2 linked regions of the Homo sapiens genome follow. The protein of the gene in region 1 purifies or fractionates together with the protein of each later gene. This does not show direct contact. Each region holds a gene or a part of one and is shown on either strand. Other genes may lie near its edges. The genes, in order: TM2D1 and PCNX3.

Evidence for each region.
Region 2: the proteins of TM2D1 (region 1) and PCNX3 purify together in Homo sapiens (affinity purification with mass spectrometry; one large-scale study listed by BioGRID and IntAct). This does not show direct contact.

Annotation. Positions count from the first base shown.
Region 1 is NC_000001.11:61,683,555-61,687,169, forward strand, and holds part of TM2D1 (TM2 domain-containing protein 1 precursor), read right to left. Parts: intron 3,368-3,615; coding exon of another isoform or gene 3,238-3,367; intron 1-3,237. UniProt on the Homo sapiens protein: May participate in amyloid-beta-induced apoptosis via its interaction with beta-APP42.
Region 2 is NC_000011.10:65,618,730-65,622,546, reverse strand, and holds part of PCNX3 (pecanex-like protein 3), read right to left. Parts: coding exon 3,480-3,817; intron 3,011-3,479; coding exon 2,887-3,010; intron 2,794-2,886; coding exon 2,615-2,793; intron 2,209-2,614; coding exon 2,118-2,208; intron 1,717-2,117; coding exon 1,581-1,716; intron 342-1,580; coding exon of another isoform or gene 303-341; coding exon 181-302; intron 1-180.

The sequences.
Region 1 (3,615 bases):
GACAAAATTTCAAAATTATTCATTTTACAAAAGATATTTCACAGCACTTTGTTTACTTTTCTCAGTTGTTAATAAAAGTATTTCAGAAGCAACAAAAATCCAGCTCTAACCTAAGCAAAAATAGGTAATTTAGTGGCTCATGTAGCTAAAAACAACTACTGGGATATACTGGGATAGCTCAAAGGATCAAAAGAAAAGCTACAGGAACCAAGGACTGAATTCTGTGCTCCCTGAGGCCCTTGGCTTCCCTGCCTCCTTGCTTAGCTCTGCTTGTCTTCATTCTGCAGAGTGGCACTCTAACTAATTGCCAACAGCTCTAGAGTCACATATTCCCAGCTCAGCAGCTCCTAATACAAAGAAAGTAAACTTTTCTTCCCCAATGTTTATATACCAATTCCAGGGAAAGACTTTTATCGATCTGCTTGGTTTTTATGCGTACTGTGGACAAACTACTATATCCATGGGAATAGATTTAATATGATTGGCCAGGCCAGGCTGCCTGTAGGAGATGAGGTTGTATCATTGACAGTCCTGCCAGAACCACCTGGAATGGAAAAGGAAGAGGTAGAAAAAAACAACACATGTTCGCTACAATCATCTTGTCCACTTAATCACATATGTGACAATCTAGTTAACATAATCTCTATAAATTACCCTCTAAGGTAGCAATCTTCAAACTGTAGCATTAAAGGTGGACAAAGATTTACCAAGGTGTATGTGGGCCCAGAGGAGAAATCAATCCTGAGAGCTTAATTCCCTAAATACTCTTTGTAAAACAAATTTGCCTGATACCATGCTACACTGGAAGCATCCTACCAGTTTCCCTTCCCACTTCTCCTCACTGTGGTCATTTCTCCCACTTGTTAACAGTAAAGCATACCTACCATCCAGGATACCCCGAGTCTTATGATGGCATATTTCCCTGAGGTGTGAAAGCCTCTGAAGTGCCAAACAAAGGGATAGCTCAAAATATTGGATTTAGGGAACTATCCTTTACTCAAAGGTCCAAAAATACATTCTACCGTATCTGTTCCAAAGATGCATTTCCAATAACATTTTACATCTTTTTGTTTAAAAATAATTTGCAACATGTTTATGCTGTTTTGATCAACTGTGTATCATTATTATAACAAGTTGATCCAAACAAAAAATCACAGAAAATTTTTAAATATTTTAATTTTAATGAATAAGATGATTCGCTAGAAGTTTTCTCTCTTTCATTTGTTTGTTTGTTTGTTTTTTGATATAGGGTCTCACTCTGTCATCCAGGCTGGAGTGCAATGGCATGATCTTGGCTCACTGCAACCTCCCCCCCGGGGCTCTAGCGATCCTCCCACCTCAGCCTCCCAAGTAGCTGGGACCACAGGTGGGCGCCATCACGCCCAGCTAATTTTGTTTTTGTATTTTTTTGTAGAGACAGGATTTCACTATGTTGAACAGGCTGGTCTCAAACTCCTAGTACTAGGATGATGGTTAAGAACATCAATTGATCTGCCTGCTTCGGCCTCCCAAAGAGCTGGAATTACAGGCGTGAGCCAATGTGCCCAGCCTAGTAGGAAGTTTTTAAACCTAAAAATATATTATATTAGGATAAAATTCTGTAGAAGAGGAATAAAAATAAAAATTCAAGGAAGAAGCAATGTAAAAATTATAATGGTTAGTGAAGAGTTCATGCACATCTTTTTTAAGTAGGTGATATTTAAAATCCTACGATATTTATATTCTGTTGGATACATTTCAAAATTGATGTAACACTTTTATTTAAATATGTAAATATTTGCAAACTAGAAGTTATATCCTTTGCAACTATTTAAACTTATGATAGAAAACTTAAATGTCAATTTAAAAATATGTGGAGAGTATGGACTTTGTTTTTGAAATTGAAGGACATTGCTATAAAGCATTCCTCATTTTAAAAATAAATTTGATCTTAAAACTATTCAACAAATACTTAATTCCTGTGATATTCCAGGTTCTATGCTAGACATTATACACTAACAGTGAATAAAATACCATCTCTGCCAACAGGGAACTTATTCCAGTGAACTACACATGTTAATATTCAAGTAGTACTTACAAAGCACATGTGTGCCACACACCATGTCAGGTGCTGTTATGCACATTGACTTACTTGTCAAAGATTAAATTGATTTGGCTTGACACTTATTTATGAGTTTACATAAAAATTAACTGTAATCCCACACTTTGGGAGGCCAAGGCAGGAAGACTGCTTGAAGCCAGAAGTTTGAGACCAGCATGGGCAAAAAAGCAAGAACTTTGCCTCTACCAAAAAAAATGAAAATAAAATATTAGCCAGGTGCCATGGTGTGCGCTTGTAGTCTCAGCTACTCGAGAGGCTGAGGTAGGAGGATTGCTTGAGCCCAGGAGTTCAAGGTTGCAGTGAGCTATGATCACACCACTGCGCTCCAGCCTGGGTGACAAAATGCAACCCTATTTAAATAACCAAATTAAGTCGGTGTGGTAAAGCACTAAACTGAAAGGAAAACTTGGAAGAGAAAGCTGTCTCTTTCTATAACTAGCTGTAGAATCAAATAATTTATTCCTTACTGGATCTCAATTTTTCTTATTGATTATAATGAAGAATAGAATAAGCTGATCTGTACAGTATTTTTAAAGTTTTAATGTCTTCTATAAGATTTAGATACAAACACCTCAGCTTAAGCCACTACAAAGTATCATCAACACACTTTTCTATGAACTATCTGGTCACAGAAGAAACTGTTTTATTTACTTTTTAAAAAAAAAAGATCAGCTATAAAGATGTCAACTATTTAGATCCACATTCCTTTGCCAAATTAAGACAGGGTGTGGTGGCTCATGCCTGTAATCCCAGCACTTTGGGAGGCCAAGGTGGGAGGATTGCTTGAGGCCAGGAGTTCGAGACCAGTCTGGCCAACATGGCAAAACCCAGTATCTACAAAAAAAAAAAATACAAGAATTAGTCAGGCACGGTGGTGCACACCTGTAATCCCAGCTACTACTAGGGAGGCTGAGGCATGAGAATTGCTTGAACCAAGGAGGCAGAGTTGCAGTGAGCTGAGATTGTACCACTCCACTCCAACCTGGGAAACAGAGTGAGGCTCTATCTCAAAGAAAAAATAAATAAATAATAAAACCTGTTTTAAGCACCCACATACACATATATAATAAATGTGCCAATTCTAACATCTGTCATTATGAGTATATGATTGTATTATTAATTATAAAATTACAAACCTTTTAAAATATCCCATACTGGATGGGAGGCTGAGGCAGGAAGATTGTTTGAACCCAGGAATTCGAGGCTGCAATGAGTTATGATCACGCCACTGCACTCCAGCCTGGGCAACAGAGCAAGACCCTGTCTCTAAAAAAAGAAAGTAAATTACCCCAATACTGGGAATTTTTTTCCTCAGTAAATATGACCATGTCCATTTGTCCATAGGCAACAGAGTATGGAACCCAAAATTATGAGTTTATTTCTCTGCTAAGAAATATCCTGAAGCTGGCTGGGCACAGTGTCTCATGTCTGTAATCCCAGCACTTAGGGAGGCCGAGGCAGGATAGCTTGAGCCCAGGAGTTTGAGACCAGCCTAGGGAACAAAGTGAGATCCT
Region 2 (3,817 bases), on another chromosome or scaffold:
CCCTTTACACCACAAATGAACCATAGAAACCACCACTGCAGACTCCAGCCAACGACAGGCCCTCAGCTTCCCCCGAGTCAGGCTCTCTGCTGCCATGACTGCCTCCACAGGTACAGAGTCTGGGGAGCCAAGGTCCAGGGGCTTTCCAAGAATTGGGGGCCAAGGCTGCGGGACACTCACCGGTCCAGCAGAGCCAGCAGGGCAAGCCGCTCATAGCGCACAGAGGTCCAGCGGCCAGGGAGAAGCCAGTACTTGTAACTATGCTGGGCCCGGGGTGGCGCTTCTTCCATCAGTGTCTGCTCCTGGGATTCGTGCAGGGAGTCCTGGTCCAGCAGGTCAAACTGCAGTCCCCACAGCCGCGGCCGTCAGCCCCGCCACCCCCCACATGGTCTACTGTTACCCCCCTTCAGCACACCGGTCTGGTTGACCATTTCCATCAGCACATAAAGGCCCCTGTCTAGCGGCCCTGGACCCCACCAGAACCCTTCATCTGAAAGGGCTCCTCCTCTCTCCAGGTTCCCAGGACGTCGCCCAGTGGCTGCAGGGGCTGCCTAGAGTCACCCGCTCCCACGCCTGTCTTCCCCAGTCAGGCAAACTCTCCCACCTCTTCTGAAGCTCAAGGAAGTCCACTTGTCCTTTGGGACCTGGCACAAATGCTACCCTCCTCCCAGACAGGGCCTGTCACTGTCACTCTGACTACCCCATCCGAGCGTGCATGCAGGGCTCAGCCTTGAGGACATGCCTAGGTGCCAATGCCAGCCCTGAGGCCCTGGGCACATGACTTGACCTCTCATTTGTTGTATCCTTCACTCAACAAGCACTTGTGGGGCCCCAGCTATGGGCCCGGCCCTGCCCTGGGATCCAAGGATAAAATGGCGAGCCAGAGGCACGCAACCCTTCCCTCTGGAGGCGGCCGCCGGCCACGCTTCCACCCCACATGGTTACAAGGAAGAAATGAACCAGAAGCGGGCAGGTGGGAGCTTCTGGGGGCTGCCCAACCTATCTGTGGCCTTGAGGGTCAGGTGCCGGGTACCCTTTTATGATCATTCTTTAAGCTCTAAGATGGCGTTTCACGCATTTTTAGCGCTTCTGGTGTTAATAGATTAAGTATACAAATTTACTGTCCAAACTGTGATATTCTTAAGAGTGACAGAGCGCTGGTAATGAGTATACTGAGACAGGAAGTGTTAACAGAGAGCACCCCAGCAGCCACACGTGCACAGTGTATGCAGGGCAGCACAGTCATCACAGGGTCCCTGCTTGCTAACAGAACACTGCCACTTCCGCAAGTATCATCATTAACACCCATGGCCCCTGTTCACTGTGGGACCCTCCAGAGTTAGGAATGTACTCCAAAGGAATTCGTAGTAAGCAAATAAATGACTTCTCCAGCCATTCAGACCCAGAGTCTCTGCCAACATCAAAGATCAGGACAGACACAGTAGGGCCCCTGGAGCGCTCACTCAGCACTGCCCGTCCCTCCTGGGGCACCTGGGCAAGCTCTCTATGCAGGCCGGACTCAGTGATCTGCCCGCCCCGTCACGCCCCACTGGCACGGCCCTTCCCCGGCTGCTCCTCACCTCCGGGATCTCCAGGGGCACCCGGCGCACCTGCATGCCCTGCAGAACCACAGGCCTCGGCTGCAGCAGGTTCAGGCCGCCTGTAGCCTCAGGGACATCAGCCGAGTGGAAGCTGGAGGAATGCGAGTGTCGGTCCCTGTGAGAACAGCAGCCATCAGGATCCCCCCACGGGCGAGCCCTGGGGCTGGGTGGGGTCGAGGCCGAGGCCAAGGCCAGGCAGGTAGGGCTGTCTGTGCCGAGACCAACCAGGGCTCAAGGGACAAGTGCTGGGGTCAGGTGGCAGAAGTGCCTCCCTCCCAGACCCTGGCACGAGTGTCGAGGCTGTGCCCTGGGCTTCCTAGAAACTTCCTGCCCGGAGTGTCATGGAGCCAGGGACCCCAGGAGGTCTGTCCTTTGCTGCTCCCCATCCTCTCCCTGCAGATCTGAGCTGCCCCTGCCCAAGCCCAGCAGGAAGAGAGCAAACTCCAGGCTCAGGGAACTTCCCAGAGATGCAGGCCACCAAGACAATGGCTTGGGAGGCCAGGCTTGGGAACTCACCAGGCTCCATTAGCTGTCTGCTCCCCTTGCTGCCCTACAGGGTTCTCGTAGCCGCCTCCAGCCAGGCCAAAGGTGTAGGAACGCCGCACACCTGGGGCAGGGTATGGGAGATGAGGCAGCGTGGCAGAGACAGAAGCACCAAGGCCCGGCTCACGTGGGCACCAGACCCATCAAATGAGGCAGAACCTTGTGCTGTGTCCTCTGAGAGGGCAGCCCAGCCTCTGGAGAGGAAAGGGCCTACAGGTCAAGAGCCTGGGCGCGGCAGTCACCTGTCCTAGCTTTAGATCTCCCCTGTACTGTAAGCTGAGCCTCTGTTTCCTCATCAGCAGAGCAAAAGATGACAGAGACACCGTGCCTCAAAGAGGCTGCAAGGATGATGTCTGGCAGCATTAGCAGTGTACCTGCCACAGGGCCGAGCGAGCACCACTGCTAGGAGGACTCAGGCTGTTGGGGGAAGGCGGGGAGGCACTGGGCCACCGGGCTTGGGAAAGGCTCACCGCTCTCATCGTAGAAATAGTGCACAGCACCCTCAGAAGTGTCATCAAAGGTGCAGGCCTCATGCACATTGGCACCGGCCCGGGTGAGCAACAGTGAAGAGGCGAAATGCAGCGCAGAGGGCAGCGTCAGCGCCCGGGAGTGGGAGGCAGCCCGGCCCCGCTGAGCTTCCTGCAGGCTGCTGGAGAGGGTCAGCCCCAGGTCAGCGCCAGCTAGAGCTTGCGGGCCCTCCCCGGCCCCCGGTGCCCCTCGGCACAGCTGGCAAGGTGCTCACCTGGGCGGCGAGCCCATGACAGAGGCTGGAGGGGTGGGGTTGCTGCCTGCATTGTGGCGTCTCCGAATGGCCTGGGTCCGCCTCACACTGCTTGAGCGGTCCCGCCTGCCAGTCTCCTCGGCCGCTGCCCAGAGAGAGGCCCCCAAGTGTAAGTGACAGATGCTCAGACAAGGCTGGGGGAGTAAGGTTGGGGACGGTGTTCCGCCAGGGAGCTAAAGGCCTAGTACAACCACGCCCCGGCTCTGAGGCCCAGCCAGGTCACACAGCCCCATGCTCAGTTTCCTTACTTGCAAACAAGGATGACACTGATCGGCCCTGCCCCACCCCACTGGTGGTGGGAGGATGAGTGTGGATGATGAGAGTCCTCAGGGGACAGAGACTCAGGTGCTAATCAAGGATGTGGAGCCAGGTGGCTGAGCCCCATGTCTAAGAGGTTTGGCAGACAATGTCAATCACCACCAGGCCCACGTCCATCTGCTGCCTACAACCGAGGCTGAGCTGACACTGACCAGGTCCATTCTTACCTGCCCTTTGCCCAACCCCAAGCCCGTAGCTCACGTCCCCCAGCCCCTGCCTCTAGAGCAAGCACTCACCTCCCCCCACAGCACCTTCCTCCTGCAGCTCCCCCCGCCAGCCGGGCTGGTTGGCAGCGGGTCCCCTTCGCGCCTCAGCAGGCAGCACAACAGGCTCACTAGCAGCCTGCTCCACCCCAACCTGGGCCTCCAGCTCTGCCTTGCAGCCAGCCAGTGGGGGCCTCAGAACATCACCCCCAGCCCCATCCATGCTCAGCACACGGGCATGTGTTTTAGCGCTGGCGGTACTAGGCGTCCGCTGGGTCCCATATGGCCGCTTGGGGGGCACAGCAGTTCCCTCCTCAGCCCCATGGGGGGCCCTCCGCTTCCGGGGTCCCCCTGCTGCACCCCGGGAGCTC